Linked DNA regions of Homo sapiens: region 1 is linked to region 2. The links come from fine-mapping of genetic effects on gene expression. Tissue or cell type: cerebral cortex. Region 2 holds a variant in brackets; the other region holds the start of a gene. All regions are shown on one strand. Distances are from middle to middle.

Region 1 (8,176 bases), 160 kb before region 2:
GACACATCACATTTAACCATCACAAGCTCCAAACGCTCTTTGGCTCAAACGTTTTCAGAAAGATGGCATGTGAGTCAAGGGAGTATGGGGGCTTCCTGGTATCATGCACCCTTCTTAACCCTCAGAGGGCCATCCCCATGCGTGAGAAGTTGGGAAGAAACCCTCCATGTCACCCGATTCTCCTTACTGGCCTTTAAGTACCATTTCTAAGTACATTTCTAAGTACGGAGTTGGTTTTTTTTTTTGGTTGTATTTTCAAGTACTGACATGTGACTATCCTCTTGTGCCTCCCCACCACTCCCACTAACATGCTCACAAGTTCCTCCTTCTGTAGTTCTCCCAGGTCTTCCCAAAACTCACTATATCACTGTACTGATTTCATCAAGAATTCAGAAGAAGACAATCTTATTAAAGAAAATCATGAAGACAATAAATGACCAGTGAACACCGTGGACACTGGAGCAAAACTGGGTTCAGGTTCCAATTCTACTACCTGTGGGACTTTGGCCACATGACTTGCAATGCTCCTGAACCTCAGTTTCCTCATCTGTAAGATGGGAATACTAATTATAACTCCTTTCCTAAAAGGTTGACGTGAGGTGATTTGAACCCTGCTTTGAGCACTTAGCAACTACACTATTTAAATTAACTATCACAAAGCTGAGGGCTACCTACAGTCTGAGGGAAAATGTTTCTGAAGAGGGACTTCCTGTGTTACTTAAACTGAATAACACAAAGTGAAGAAATGCCTTGAGCCTTTTTGTCCAAGTTTCTGTTTACAATACTGGGGATTTTTTTTTTTTTTTTTTGAGATGGGCTTTCGCTCTGTCATCCAAGCTGGAGTGCAGTGGCAATGACACAGCTCAATGTCTTGGGTTCAAGCCATCCTGGCATCTCAGCCTCCTGAGTAGCTGGGACTTACAGGTATGCATCAGCGTGCCTGGCTATTTTTAAATTTTTTTTTTTTTTTTTTTTTTTTGTAGAGAGAAGGTCTTGCCACATTGCCTAGGCTGGTTTTTACTTCCCGGGCTCAAGCAATCCTCCTGCCTTGGCCTCTGAAAATGCTGGGATTACAGGCATGAGCCACTGCATCCAGCCAGATAGTGGGAATTTTATATCCTCCCCCTTCACACCTTCTGGGGGGCTAAGAAGTCGGAGTTTGATATTACTGAGAATTCCAAAATAATTCACTCCTAAAACATTTCATCATACAAACACCAGAGGGCAAGAAAAATACAATTTACCACATGCATTCTAGGTACCAATCCACATATATTGCCTCATTTAAGGCCCATGACATCCCTGTAAATTAGATGTATCATCCCCAATTTAGAAAGGAGGAAACTCTAAGGCTTAAGATTTAAATAACTTGCCCCAAATTATAGAGCAGAATAAGGATTTTCCAACTTTAAAGCTAAAACTCTGGCCAGTTACGCCATGATGCTTCGCTTACAAGGATCAGACCTTGACCTATTTCTTGCAGGCTGTTGGCTTCTGTATTATCTAAAATTATTTTTCACATATCTGAGAAATGCTCTTATTTCTCTTACTTTACAAAATTGAATTCTTAATTCTATAATTAAGGATATTCAGGACATTCAATGAAGGGTAATTGTGAAATGGACAGGAGACCTTGAATTGTACATGCTGGAGATATAAAGCTTTAGAACTAATAGGAAAATAGATGTCTGAGGTTCTTGATTTTCCATTTGTTTTCCACTGTTTCTAAACTAAACCACTGTTTACAAAGAATGTGTCAGTGAAAGATGCAGTAAAAGATGCTTCTTTTCCTTTATTTTTAGACTCAAGTAAATATTTGTTAACAATATGGTTGATATGGTTTGGATCTGTGTCCCTGCCCAAATCTCATGTTGAATGGTAATCCCCAGTGTTAGAGGTGGGACCTGGTGGGAGGTGACTGGATCATGAGGCAGTTTCTTATGAATGCTTTAGCACCATTCCCTGATGCTGTCCTCATGAGAGTGAGTGAGTTCTCATGAGATGTGTTTGTTTAAAAGTGTATAGCACCTCCCCATTCATTTTCTTCCTCCTGCCTACTTCCCCTTCACTTTCTGCTATGATTGTAAGTTTCCTGAGGCCTCCCCAGAAACTGATCCCACCATGCTTCCTGTACAGCCTGCAGAACCATGAGCCAATTAAACATTTTTTCTTTATAAATTACCCAGTCTCAGGTTCTTTACAGCAATGCAAGAACAGACTAATACAATGGTTTACAAAGTAAGTTGACGAAGCTGAAAAATAAGTTCAAGAAGTCCTATGAAATAATTAAGATGAGTAAGATTGCAAAGACATAATTCATTACAGTGAAGATTCTCATGGCCAATTCATTCTTGGTTATGGCTTCCAACTTCTACTTTAACAGACAAATGCATTCACTTACCCATAGGTTCAACCAACCGTCTGTCCAACACATACTTAGTAAATAGAGACACACTACATGCTAGGTACTGTTCTAGGTGCTGAGATAAAGCAGAATGAAGGTTTTGAGGTTGTAATAATCTAATAAACAAATGAAAAAAGCAAGTTGATTTCAGATGCTGATAGGTGTTGTGAATGAAATATACTGAAAGGATATAGCATTTATAGTAGAAAGGCTATCTGAAATAGGGTAATTAGGGAAGATCTTTCTTAACAGAGGGCATTGGAGTTGAGACCTGAATGAGAAAGAGCTAGCTCTTTCCAAAGCAGAAAAAAGAACTCCCAGGCATGGAAAGTTCTAACAATTCAAAGGTACAAGATCAAAAAGAAGGCAGATGGCTGAGTCCAGAGTGGTGGTATGAGGCAAGGTCAGAAAGATGGATAGGATCCTGTACTACTAAAAGGAGCTTGATTGAAGGAGTCTGAATTATAATCTAAGTATAATGGAATCATTTCAGGTTCTAAGCAGGAGGTAATATGATTTGAGACAGCTTTAAAAACATTAATCCAGATGCTTGTTCAAGAATTACTTATAGGCTGGTTGCGGTGGCTCAAGCCTGTAATCCCAGCACTTTGGGAGGCCTAGGCAGGAAGACTGGCCCCAGGAGTTCGAGACGAGCCTGGGCAATATAGTGAGACCTCATCTCTACAAAAGTAAAAAAAATAAACAAATAAATTAATAAAATAATATAAAATTTGCCAGGTATAGTGGTGGGCACCCATAGTCCCAGCTACTCTGGAAGCTGAGGTGATGGAATCACTTGAGTCCATGAGGTTGCAGTGCGCCATGATTGCACCACCGCACTCCAGCCTGGGTGACAGAGTGAGATCCTGACTCAGAAAACAAAACAGCAACAACAACAACAATAGCAAAAACAGAAAAGAATTACTTATAAAGGGGCAAGAGTGGGAGGGGAGGGACTAGTTAGGGTGCAAATGCAGAGACTGAAGATAAAAAGACTCTAAAGACTCATAACAAATCTCTTTAATGGTTAAAGAGAGTTCATTGGGGGAAAGAAAGCTGAATTTATTTTAATAATGTCCCCATTTTCGGTAACATATATGCTACAAAGTCAATTATTTTATTGTTATTTGGTCACAGGTAGAGATAACGGTGTGGCTGTGGATTAGCAATTACATACACCTCCGTTGCACATTTAAAAAGGCATTTTGTTGTTGCTGCAAGAAACCACTATGCAGGGCTTTTGGTCCTCCCTAAAGGAGAGAAACGGTATCTAGGAAATTAATTCTTCTCTCAGGCCCAAATGCAAAATTGCAGAAACCACTTGCTAAATATGGTCAGCCATTTTTAAGAGTCCAGAGAGTCTTTTCTCAGGCGTACTTTATTAGAGGCCATTGATCAGTTTCTACCGATTATTATAGTTAATTGAAGGGAAATCTGCGACTATGGCTATTTATTGGCATTTGCGTTCGGCTCAGACAGAAGCTAGTTTTGAAAGTGGTATCCGTAGAGTTATCCCGCTTGCACACTTCCTTGCCTAGGGGTGGTGGGGGAGCGCTGAGGGCTTGCGGGGTGTCAGCCACCAGGGCTTTCTGCTCATCAGTCAGCATCGTCAGACATCCTGGAAGTGTTATGATGGCGCTGAATGTAGAAAAAGGGTTCTCAGGGCGGATATATTGTCGTCATTCCTGGTGGCAGAGGGGAGTGACAAGAGGCTCACACGTCGCTGGGTAGTAGCACGCATAATAAAGTGTGGTTTGCACCATGTGTGCCACAGATTTCTCGGGTTTTCTGGAAGGCTTTTCCAAGTTCCGCCTTCTCCCCTTTAAAGCCATCCTGGCCCCAGCTATGCATCGGCCTTTGACTCCATCTGTCCTTCCGCTGCGGACGGGAGTCCCTCTCGCCAAATGGAGAACACAAGTTTGGCACCCCAAAGTGATGATAACCTCTACCCTCTTGGCTCAGCGCGAGCCAAGAGTCAGGCCTGCAGAGGGACGGTCAAGCGGATGGAGGGGGAGGCCGCGGAGAGGCCGCTCCTCTCACCTCCCCGCACCCATCATCACTTGGCACTTGGCCAAGCCCAGGCAGACGCCCCGCCTGCGCGTCCCCCACCCGCCCCGCGGTGCACGTCTCCCAGTGCTTTTGCATTTGCTCCTCTTCCGCCCTGCTGCAGAGCGCGGCTCGCAGGTTGGAGTTTGCCCTCGTGTGCGCCGCATCACACGGCAGGGAGGGGAAGGCAGGCGGCGGAGGCTGGGTCGGAGCAGGAGTCGCGCGGTCCCTGGCGCCCGGAGACACAGTGGGGAACCACCGCCCCGCCCCCGGAGCAGCGGACAGGGCCGCAGACCTCCCTTCCCCCCTCCCTCTCTCCCTCCTCCCCAGCGCCCTGACTCCCTGCCTCCACGCCCTTACTCCACCCCCTACTCCGGCCAGATCCCCATCCTCTCCTTGTGTGTGCGCGCTTCATATAATCTCCTCCTTTTTGGCAAAAGAAATAATGCACCTGACTTTACCAGGGGGGAACAACCAGCCGAGTAGAACAAGGAACAGATGTAAAGGGAATAAAAGGAGAGAGAAAAAGAGATGAGATTCGTTTAAAGAAATCCAGGGGCAGAAGAGGTGGCTGCCGCGGCAGAGGCAGCTAGAGCTTACTTCCCTGTCTGCGTGAGCTGCAGGCAGAGGACGCTTTCACCAGTTGCAGATGTAACCTCGGGAATTCCTGGGCCGTCGGTTTGTTTGCCAAACAAAGTCTTTTCTTCTCTGGCTCAGACACTGAAGAGGCTCCTGGATTTTTCTGCGATCCTGCCACAAGCTGGCAGTTACCCGAGAGCCTTCCCAAGGAGCTGGAGGAGAAATGAGCCCTTGTGGGCGGAAGATGGGCGAAGGGCGTCAGCAGCGGCGGGCTCCGGTCGGGAAGCTCCTTCTGCTCCCCGGGAGGAGAGATACACCCCATGGGCGGTCAGGCAGCAGCGGCGCCAGGACGCAGCGCTCCCTGCTCTGGCTCTTGGTGCACGTGTGGCTGTGGGCGGCCTCGGGCTCCTCTGCCCAGTTGTTCAACCTCACCCTTTCCGTAGATGAGGGGCTTCCCCCGGACACGCTGGTAGGTGACATCCGCGCCGGGCTGCCGGCCGCGCAGCAGCAGGAGGGGAGCGGCTTCTTTCTGTCGGAGGACTCCGATGACTCCCCGCTGCTGGACGACTTCCACGTGCACCCGGACACCGGCATCATCCGCACTGCGCGGCGCCTGGACCGCGAGCGGCGGGACCACTACAGCTTCGTCGCCGCCACGCTGCTGGGCGCTGTGGTGCAGGTGGAGATTCGCGTCAACGACGTGAATGACCACTCGCCCCGCTTTCCCCTCGACTCCCTGCAACTCGACGTCTCCGAGCTCAGCCCGCCAGGGACCGCCTTCCGCCTGCCAGTTGCCCACGATCCGGACGCCGGACTGTTCAGCACTCAGGGCTACACCCTGGTGCAACCGTCCGACCTGCCCAAGGACCCCGCAGGCCCGTTCTTCCAGTTGCGCTACCGGACTCCGGGGCCACTACCGTCACCGCTTTTGCCAGGCTCCTCGTCACCCCTGGAGCCTCTAGATCTGGTGCTGCTGCGGCGCTTGGACCGAGAGGAGGCGGCGGCGCACCGGCTGCAGATCGAGGCATGGGACGGCGGCCGACCCCGGCGCACCGGCCTCCTGAGCGTGGAGCTGCGCGTGCTGGATGAGAACGACAACCCGCCGGTCTTTGAGCAGGACGAGTACCGCGCCGCGGTGCGCGAGGACGCCCAGCCGGGCGCCGAGGTCTGTCGCGTGCGCGCCACCGACCGCGACCTGGGGCCCAATGGCTTCGTGCGCTACAGCGTCCGCGCCCGGCAAGTGCCTGGGGCGGGTAGCGGCGGCGGGGCACTGGGCGACGCGGCCTACTTCGCGGTGGAGGAGCTGAGCGGCGTGGTGCGAGTGTGGAGACCTCTGGACCGCGAGGCACAGGCCTGGCACCAGTTGGTGGTGGAGGCCCGCGATGGAGGCGCCGAGCCTGAGGTTGCCACGGTGCGCGTGTCCATCGCCGTGCTGGACGTGAATGACAACCGGCCAGCAATTCACGTGCTCTTTCTCACAGAGGGAGGCGTCGCCCGTGTCTCTGAAGGCGCCCGACCGGGCGACTACGTGGCTCGCGTCTCGGTGTCTGACGCGGACGGTGACTGGGAGAAGGAAGATGAGGCCACAGGGGAGCTTGGTGTGGGTCTTGGAGACGGGAGCATCTCTCTGTCCTTGGAAGGCGGAGAGGGAGACTTCGCGTTGCTACCCGGCGGCCCCCCAGGGGTATTTTTCCTTTGCGTGGAGGGGCCCCTGGACAGAGAGAGCCGCGATCTGTATGAGTTACTACTGGTGGCCACGGACGCGGGGTCCCCGCCGCTGAGCACGGAGGAGACGCTGCTACTCCGGGTCGCTGACCTCAATGACCAACCACCTCTCTTCAGCCAACAGCATTACAAGGCCTCAGTGTCCGAGGCCGCGGCCCCTGGCACTGTAGTCATGTGGGTCAGCGCCTCCGATGCCGACGAGGCAGGCAGTGATCACGCCTGGCTGCGCTACACTGTAGTCCAACTCTCGGCTCCCTGCAATCTCGGCTCCCTGCAATCAAAGATGGTCCACACCGCAGAGTGTGGACCATCTTTTGCCATTGATTCCGAAAGCGGTGCGATCAGCACTATCCGGACTCTAGACCGAGAGGTCCAGGAGGCGGTGGAGCTGAAAGTGGTGGCCCAGGACCTCGGAGAGCCCCCACTCTCTGCCACCTGCCTGGTGAGCATCACCGTAGATGATGTGAATGACAATGAGCCCATCTTCTGGAGGCAGGTGTACAATGCCACCATTGCAGAGCATGCCCCGGTTGGACACTGCTTTCTGCAGGTGAGTGCATCAGGCCTGTGGGCCAACCTGAAGGCTTGGGAAGGGATGGAGAGGGTTGTGAGTTGGCCTAGGAAATTGTGATGTGGAGGATAATATTCCGGCTCTCAAATACAAGACTGGCGGTAGTGCCCCCTCTACAGTGAGATGAATGATGCCCTCTAGTCACCTAACTTTTTTTTGCCAGGGTCTTGGCTACATGATCTCTAAGGTCCTTTCAACTTGACTTTTAGATCTTGATTTATCTTATTGAAGCCTGATTTCTTTCCTGCTGGATGTATGCACCTAAATAGGTTCAGGAGGAACTGCCCATTCTAAATCAGACCTCTTCCAACTGACAATGTCTCACATCATATCATATAAATACATGTATACACACACACACACACACACACACACACACAGACACACACACACACATATATATATTTTTGTCAAACAGAGTGTCACTCTGTTGCCCAGGCTGGAGTGCAGTGGCTCAATCTCGGCTCACTGCAACCTCCTTTTCCCAGACTCAAGCAATTCTCCTGCCTGCCACCATACCTGGCTAATTTCTGTATTTTTTTAGTGGAGATGGGGTTTCACCATGTTTGCCAGGCTGGTCTCGAACTCCTGACCTCAGGTGATCTGCCCTCCTCAACTTCCCAAAGTGCTGGGATTACAGGGGTGAGCCACCACGCCCAGCAATGTCTCATATATTTTTTTAACAGCTTTATGAGGCAACCTAGGGAATAAGGTAGTTCTCGTAAGTGAGTTTTTAAAATGACCAAGTGTATATCTTTATACACTGACACTGTTTTGAGTTACCTTTTCCAGAGACTTCTTACATGTTTTCCTACCTTCCTTCGAAGCTTACAAAGGTTGGATGAAGACTG
Region 2 (8,000 bases):
GACTATGAATCCACCCAAACATATAATTTTAGAGTGTTTGCTTGGATCCCCGAGGACGGATTCTTGCAAAATGTGAGCACTACAGTCATTGTTCGTGTCTGGGATGAGAATGACAATTCCCCCACCTTCTTGCATGATGTGTTGTTTTTGAAAGTCGAAGAGAGCCCTGTTCCCCAAGGGGTAATAGGCAAAATTACAGCTATTGACATGGACTCTGGAAAGAATGGACAGCTATTATATTTCCTTTTGTCTGATGGAAAATTCTTCAAGATGAATCCTAATACAGGTAGCACTTCATAGTTTCCACCTATTCCTTTAAAATGAGGGTTCAGTACTATCACACTCGTCTTTAAGTAAAAATAAAAATAAAAAATTAAACAAAATCAGGATTGAGAAAACTCAAGTCGTTAGGTATAGCATTAGTGCATACATGCAATTGAAATAATGGTTTTTAATAAATAAGGTATTCGATTACTCTATTGTGAGGTCTTAAAAATGGATTAAAAATTGAATAGAGTTTCACCCATAATAATTCATACTTTCCCTGCATCACATCCCCATCTTGCCAATATATGGTTCTTTTTCTGAACTAGAGGTATAGTCAGAACTGGATTGAATATATCCTTGTGTAAAGGCTAATTTTTTCAACAACCATCCTTTTCCATTTGTAGACATTTAAAAAACGTCAAAACGTATTTTGTGAAATATAAATATCATCAATGTAAAGCTAGACATCAATTCATTGGTTAAGATTTCAAAATCACTCTAAGAATATATATCCTTTTTCTCATTCTGACAGGGGAACCAGAGGAAAAGGGGGAATAATTACAGTGAAATTTTTAAAGTCTGAATTAAGAAATTAAAGATTAAAAGTCACTATATTTTAAAATTTATGTTGTATAAGTTTACGGGGAGTTTATTTAATCCTTACAATGAAACATATCTATACTGCAAATACATACCCGGGAAAACTGAAACTCAGATAGCTCGAGTAGTACACCCAAAGTCATGGAGCTGGTAAGATGAGAAGAAGCTCCCTTTTTGTGCAGGTCCAGCAGGCACCATCTATGTCATAACCTGGGCAGATGGTGCTGCTGCCTTTAGTGGGACAGACTTTGCATTCAGTTCTGATGAACTTCAAGCCTTTGTTCTCAAGTCTCTGTTCTGTGAATTAGGAGAAGGTGACCTTTCACAGCAGATGGAGGGTTTTCACAGGGCACATGGCTTGCCAAGAAGGTTGCAAGCTGCCTTTCCACTCTCATTCACTCCCTAAACTGAGACTCCTGCTGCAAGGGCACAAACCATACAGCTATATGGGATGACCCTGCTTGCACTTTACTTCCATATGGCTAGTTTTCAAGGTCTTCTATTTCACTTGTTTTTTTCTTTAAAATAAGCAAACTACAGTTGATTCCCCCGTGATCTTCCCTCCCCTACAAGAAAACGAGGTGTCCATTCCTAATTTCATTGTATGGCTTTAAGCAAGTAGCTTAAGCTCAGAGCTGCTTCCTTACCATGAATACAGGAGACAATTCCTGACACGCCCTGTGCCATGCTTTGAGGGGTAAAGAGCTAAAGAATATGAAAGGGCTTGGAACACTACGTGCTTGTAAACTGTTCCTCCTCCCAAGGACAGCATGGCAAGGCAGGGTGGAGGGTGTCCTTCAGAGCCTGGGAGACACACCCCCTTTTCATCCAGTTCTCTGGACAGTCCTACAAGTGACCAGGACTTGAGCTCCTGTGGAACCATATCCTGGTGTCGCCCATCCCCAGCTGCAGCCTGAGCTGCACAGTCTTTTACATCCCCGACCTCCAAGGCTGCTGCTTATCCATCAGATTTGCTTTATGAATAAAAATCTGTTTGCCATTCAGAAGTTAAGGTCTTCGGAGGAGAATTATAGTTTGGAATTTAAAAAAAGCAATTGTGTGTATGATCTATATTAAAACCACCGAGTAAACACTATAAATATAGTTTATATATTAACAGTAAACAGTTATCATAAACACTGCATTTAAGCTCACCAATTCAGCAACTTACCTAAATGAGAATTTTCATTTTTGTTCCCTGTTTCCACTTTTTTTTAATGCAATGCTATTTTATTTGTATTAAGAGGAAAAAAGTTTTTAGCCACAGAAATGTTTGTCGGTAGCTGCTTCATGCTCACATTCTCACAGGTACATTTTTTTTTCATAAATGGTGAGGAAATCAATGCTTGGCAGAGCTCTGACAGGCTATTGGACCGAGTGCTTGTCTTCCCAAGGTCCCTGGCAATAGGAAGAGGCACTTAGATGTTATGCCTGGGTCTGCATGGCTGACACATGAGGAAAGTTACTGAAGGTAGTATAGCTCTAGGCAGAAATATTTGAAATAAAGCTTCTAAAGCATTAAGAGTTTTTATAGGAAGTCACTATCCACTGCTACATGTATATTTTGTGAGATAAAAAACAAATACTTGTGTGCATAAAACAAGAACTATTGCCTAAGGGATATTATTTGATTTCCAGAAAGGTATTTAGCCATTATGTTAAAGTAGTAATAACAGCTTCCACTTGTGTCGTCATGTATAGCTTGCACAATACTTTTAAATGTGTGATTACATTTCTTCCTGACAGCAGTCCCAGGCTCAGAGGAGTCATTCCATGTCTGAGATGGGGAAACTGGGGCCAAAGCCAGAACCTGTGTCAGAGCTCACATGCTTTCCATCATTCTGTATAGCAGCATAAAGAGGGATAAGCAGCAGTTTTAAATCTTCCAAATCATTACTAAGTTCCCACGGAGTTTTATCATTTTTATGAATTCATTGTTTATTAGTTCAAATGATCGATGGATGATAATTTGAAATACAAAGAATAACAAATTTAAAGTGACATTTTCAGGAGCAACTTGAGAAAATTTTTTCAACAGTACCATAGAGCCAAACTACTATGTAGATGGTCTTAGAAGTCGCATATTTGCTCAAAGCTTTGTACTTGGTTTTCCTTCTGGAAATGGTTCTGGCCCTGGTGCGCCTGGTACACAGTGCCTGTGTCTTGTTCTGCTCTGTACTCTGCAGGAGAGTTAATCAATTGGGTGGCACTGGATCGTGAGCACCGGGGGCACCATGAGATGACTGTGCTAGTGACAGACCG[C/T]GGCTCCCCACCACGAAACGCCACCATGGCGGTTTACGTCTCAGTTACTGACATCAATGATAACAGGCCCTTCTTCCCCCAGTGTCTCCCTGGAAAGGAGTTACACGTGAAGGTTTGTGAAGAAACCTTGCAATGAATTTGTAATATCTTAAGTCATTTGTTTTGAGCACCATCTTGTGGTAAAACCTGTGAATTTATCACATCAGTCTTGGTGTGGCAAAGCATACTTTTTCTAGAAGACCTAGATACTGTGCACATGTTATTTTAAAAGAAAATTTTTAAAAAGTAAATGAATATATGTGCTCTTTGGCATTGTACCTCCAGTTGCTTTATAACAATAAGTTTAGTTCAGCCCCTTGTACACAAACTGAATGGTGCTTCAGGTTAATGCTCAGACATGGCTTGTTTTTCCAGTAGTTTACGTGCATCTCTTTGTGCAGAGCTTCTTAACGGCAATTGATACATGTCTCTAAGATAGTTACTTAAGGGTAGGGGAACAACCTGTAGCTCTAAAGTGGGTAGGTGGAAATCCAGAGATAGTAAAAGTTGATCCTTTTGATCACATGCACCAACTGGCAATTATATTTATATTATCTCATCTTTTTCATTTGTCTTTTTGTATGTTGTATAATATACATAATAAATTAGAATATCAGTTCATTCACATAATTAATAAATATGTTTGGACCTACTAATAATTTTTTTAGTGGATGGGTTATAATAATGAAAAGTTTAGAAGCTACTGTTCCAGAACAATTGAATTAGACATTCAAATTGTGCTCAAATATACATATTGAACAACTCAACAAAAGTATTGAGGAACTCATAACTTTAAACTGATCTGAATCCAGCTTTAAAGAAAAATTCTAACAAAGCAAAATATTATTATATCATCATTACACTTTTTAATCATATCATTAAAATGTCCTGTGGCTTAATTGGGCAGTTGGACTCTAAACATGTAGTTGAACTTCACATGTGCATTTCAACATTGCAGGACAGCTCCTGATAATTGGTATGTCCTGCATGAGTTTTGTTTTCTGAATTAAAGGTTCATACTTATTTTAAGCATATTTTAAGCCATAGCAACCACCTTTCAAAAAATGTCCTAAGAGATGATGAATGAGAATATGCTAGAAATCTTAAAATACACCAAAAATCTAAGATTGTTTAGCAAGTTCAATTTCTTTTTCTTTTGGTCAGAATTAGTTCAGATGCCTCAGATAATTCATTCTAATTGAATAAAAGATTTAATATGTAAGGAGGATTCTTTTCATGGACATACACCCATATAACTTTTACATGGTATGCATTTGAATTATATGTGGATTTTAAGATAGTTTAAAATGTTTAGTATAATGTATTCATTCATTTAAAGGTCCACTGATATTTCTTTTTAAACTTTTGCTGACTCATTTGTAAGCTGTTTGTTTTAATGGCAGGTTCTGGAAGGTCAACCAGTAAATATGTTGGTTACAACTGTGTTTGCAAAGGATCCTGATGAAGGAAATAATGCAGAAGTTACATACTCAGTATCTTCAGGTAAAACTTACTGTTCATACGGGATTAAGAACTTTTAGGATTTCTGCTTTCATTTATCAACTATCCCCTTCTGGGAAAAGAAGTTCTATTTTGATTACTTTGAATGCTGTAGTTAGTTTTGAAAAAGCACCAAGTTACAAACAAAATACATTTGCTATTGTCAAGAACTACTTTCAGTTTTTGAAAAGTAATTTAAAGTTTAATAAAAAATCAGAGTAGCTTTTTACGTTCTTAATAGAAACCATTCATCTTTAGTGAGTAATTTGCAATAATGTGAAGTACAAATTTACTTTTATTGATAGGAAAGTGTTAGTTAGGGGATAAGAATTGGTATTAAGTATGACTAAGAGTTCCAAGCATCTATAAATCTTTATGAAGACTGAATACTTGTAAGGTCAGAGTAAATCATGCCTAGAAAATGTCACATGTATACATGCGTGTGTGTATGGGGAAATTTTATTGAAGTGGGCTTACTATTATGTTTTCTGTTGGAACATGCAGGCCCCAGATTTTTTCCAGTTATTTACTTTAATTGGCATTGTGTTTTATATAATTTTAAAAGACATTTGGTGCTTTGTCATGTTTGACACAAACATAGGACATAGGAAAGAAGAGATAACATTGCCCTTTCCCACAGATAGTTTGATTGTCTGCATGGAAAACCCAAGAGATGCTATAGGCAACCCATTGGAATTAATAAAATAGCCAATTTTCTGAGAATAATGTCAACATACGAAACTCACTGGTATTTTTAAAACTTAGCAGTTTCCAAAGATCTCATTCACTATGGTGAATTCACAAAGAAAATGAAAGGGGGTAGGAGCAGATCTACTGTGAAACTAATGAAGCTAAGTTTTGCGGTGTTTTACTTGCATAGCCTCCCCAGGGAGCGGGAAGTGGACAATTTATTTTTCTTAAGGAGTGCCTCTCAAACTGTACAAACTTCAAAACAACACAGATAGGATCTGTCTCTATTAGGGGCATAGAAAAAATTCCAATATAACTTGTATAAGACTTTCATACAGAAAAATATAAAATATTAATGAAGGACATAAAAGAATGAAATGAAAAGCTGTATCATGTTCATGCTTGGGAAGACTCAATATCCTAAAGATTACAATTCTTAACAAAAATATCATTATTAATTCAGTATGATTTCAATCAAATGTTCAATGAGGCTTTGATAGAATTTGACAAGCTGATTCTAAACATCATGTGGAAAAGCAAAAGACAAGGAATAACTAAGACAATGTCCAAATAACAAGTGGGAAGTTGGCCTTACCCAGTCTTAATTTATAAAATTTCATAATTAAAACACTATTGTATTGATTCACTCATTAATAAATGGGCCAGTTAAAAAGAGTAGGGGTCACACTTTACACGTACGGAAACTTGACATATGAGGGGGTAGAAAATAAATGGGGAAAAGATGGACTATCAATACGTGATGCTGATATGATCGGTTACCTACAAGGAAAAATATCTCTACTCTCAGCATATCAAAGATGAGTCTTATTAAATGTAGAAATCTTTAACTCTTACAAAAGAAAATATGAGACTGGTTATATATATGGCATTGAGAATAAAGAAGACGGTTTAAACAAGAAGAAATGCAGAAGCTCACAAAGAAATAGATAAATAAAACTAAATGAAAATTGAAAACACTACAAAATATGCCATTGTTTACAATGTGACTATTCAAGTCACAAGTTGGGAAAAGATAATTATAGTCCAGTAACCAATACAAAATTAGTATTCAGAATTTATTAAGAACTCCTGCAAACCAGTAAGAAAAACCAGTAAATAAATAATAAAATTGGACAAAGAATGTTAACAGACAACTCAAAGAAAAGAAGCCTGAATAATTAAAAAGGTTTTTAAAGCATGCCCAGACTCCTTGTTGTGACGACTTCGAAGAACAATGAAGCAATATCTGATAAGACTGGAGATGTGCTTATGCTATACCCTTGCAGTTCTACTTCTGTTACCCTAGAGGAACTCTATATGTGCAGAGTGAGACTGTAACAGGATATTCATTGAAGCATTGTTTCAGTTGTCTGCATAATATGGTATATTCACGGAATACTATACAGCAATGAAAATGAATACAATAGAATTTCATACATGGCAGTGTGGATAAATATTGAATCCAAAGTTAAGCAAGGAAGGCAAGGATTTTACAGAAGATAAAAAGAATTTGACGCAAACAGCAGCTTTGAGTTCATTGCATTGCTTTTCCTTGGAAAAGTTACATATGCAGTTCTTCTCAATACCTCCATGGTCAGGGAGCCAAATTCTTCTCTGATGTTTCTATGCCCATATAAACCATCCGAACTTATTTACCTATAAATGTCTTCCCAAGTTCTCAGGACACTTGAATGGTGGATTATACAGAGGTAGTGAGCCTGCAGCAGATCCACATTTGGAGACAGCCCTTCCTCTGTGTTCCTGCTGTCCCCTCCTTCAGAGACTCTTTCCCCATTCTCCCCCTCTTTTTTTGTCTTCCCTTTTGTTACTTCTCAAATTTCTCTTTTTGTTGTCTTAGCTTATTTTAATCTGGTCCTTGGGTGGGAGAAAAACTGGCTTTGCAGGTATGCATTCAAGAATCTTTCTCTGGCTATGAGGTCAGTTAGGTCAATAAGATCTTTATATCTTTTTTTCCTGTCTTATTTTGGGGTGGAGAAGACAACATAGTGTACCTGTGAAGGACAATGATTGTGAAGAGGGAAAATACACACACACACACACACACACACACACACACACACACACACACGGCTATAATCCTGCTATAATACCACTATTTAAAAGCAAGCAAAGCCATGGCATATGTTATTTATGGATGTATGGACTTCAAAGATAAACCTCAACTTCAGTTATAAAAGTGACTTTCTACGGGGAAAAAGGAGGGGAATGAGATTTGGAGCTATATACAGATCCACTCCTTTATTCATACTCTGCCATTTCTTGGAAAAAATTGAAAAAATATTGAAAATTAATCAGTCTAAGAAGTGATACTTTGGTGTTCATCGAAATATTCTTTTTTTATAAATTAGCTTTTAAATGATAATTGAGGCATGTCAATACAAAAATATGGAGATATATATTACATTATTCCCATCTTTATTTTTTATCTGATAGTAAAATAGAAGCAACTACAAAATATATGGTAAAATAATGAGATGAAAATTGGTATAAGGGGAATAAAGGTATGTATCATATTCATGAATGCATTCTATAGTATTTCTGTGAGAACAAAATCAATGGATTAAAGCATAGAAATCACAACTAATAAATGTTACATAATTGCCTGCTCCATGCTATGAGTT

The links. PIP is the estimated chance that this variant, and not a neighbour inherited with it, causes the effect.
Region 1: DCHS2 starts here. The variant in region 2 is fine-mapped to the expression of DCHS2 in cerebral cortex (GTEx, PIP 0.98). The same link has a PIP of 0.9 or more in prefrontal cortex.

Annotation. Positions count from the first base shown.
Region 1 is chr4:154,488,432-154,496,607 of GRCh38, reverse strand. It overlaps DCHS2 (dachsous cadherin-related 2), which reads left to right and starts at 4,809. Exons shown (of 20, transcript NM_001358235.2): 1 at 4,809-7,304. The coding sequence starts at 5,253. RefSeq lists enhancers at 4,379-4,428, 5,231-5,410, 5,461-5,600, 5,069-6,024, 6,025-6,981.
Region 2 is chr4:154,324,764-154,332,763 of GRCh38, reverse strand. It overlaps DCHS2 (dachsous cadherin-related 2), which reads left to right. Exons shown (of 20, transcript NM_001358235.2): 5 at 1-286; 6 at 3,054-3,241; 7 at 4,572-4,671. Among named protein-coding and RNA genes, the nearest start is that of DCHS2, 160 kb to the left of the region's middle. The variant C/T (reference allele first, on the strand shown) is at 3,130.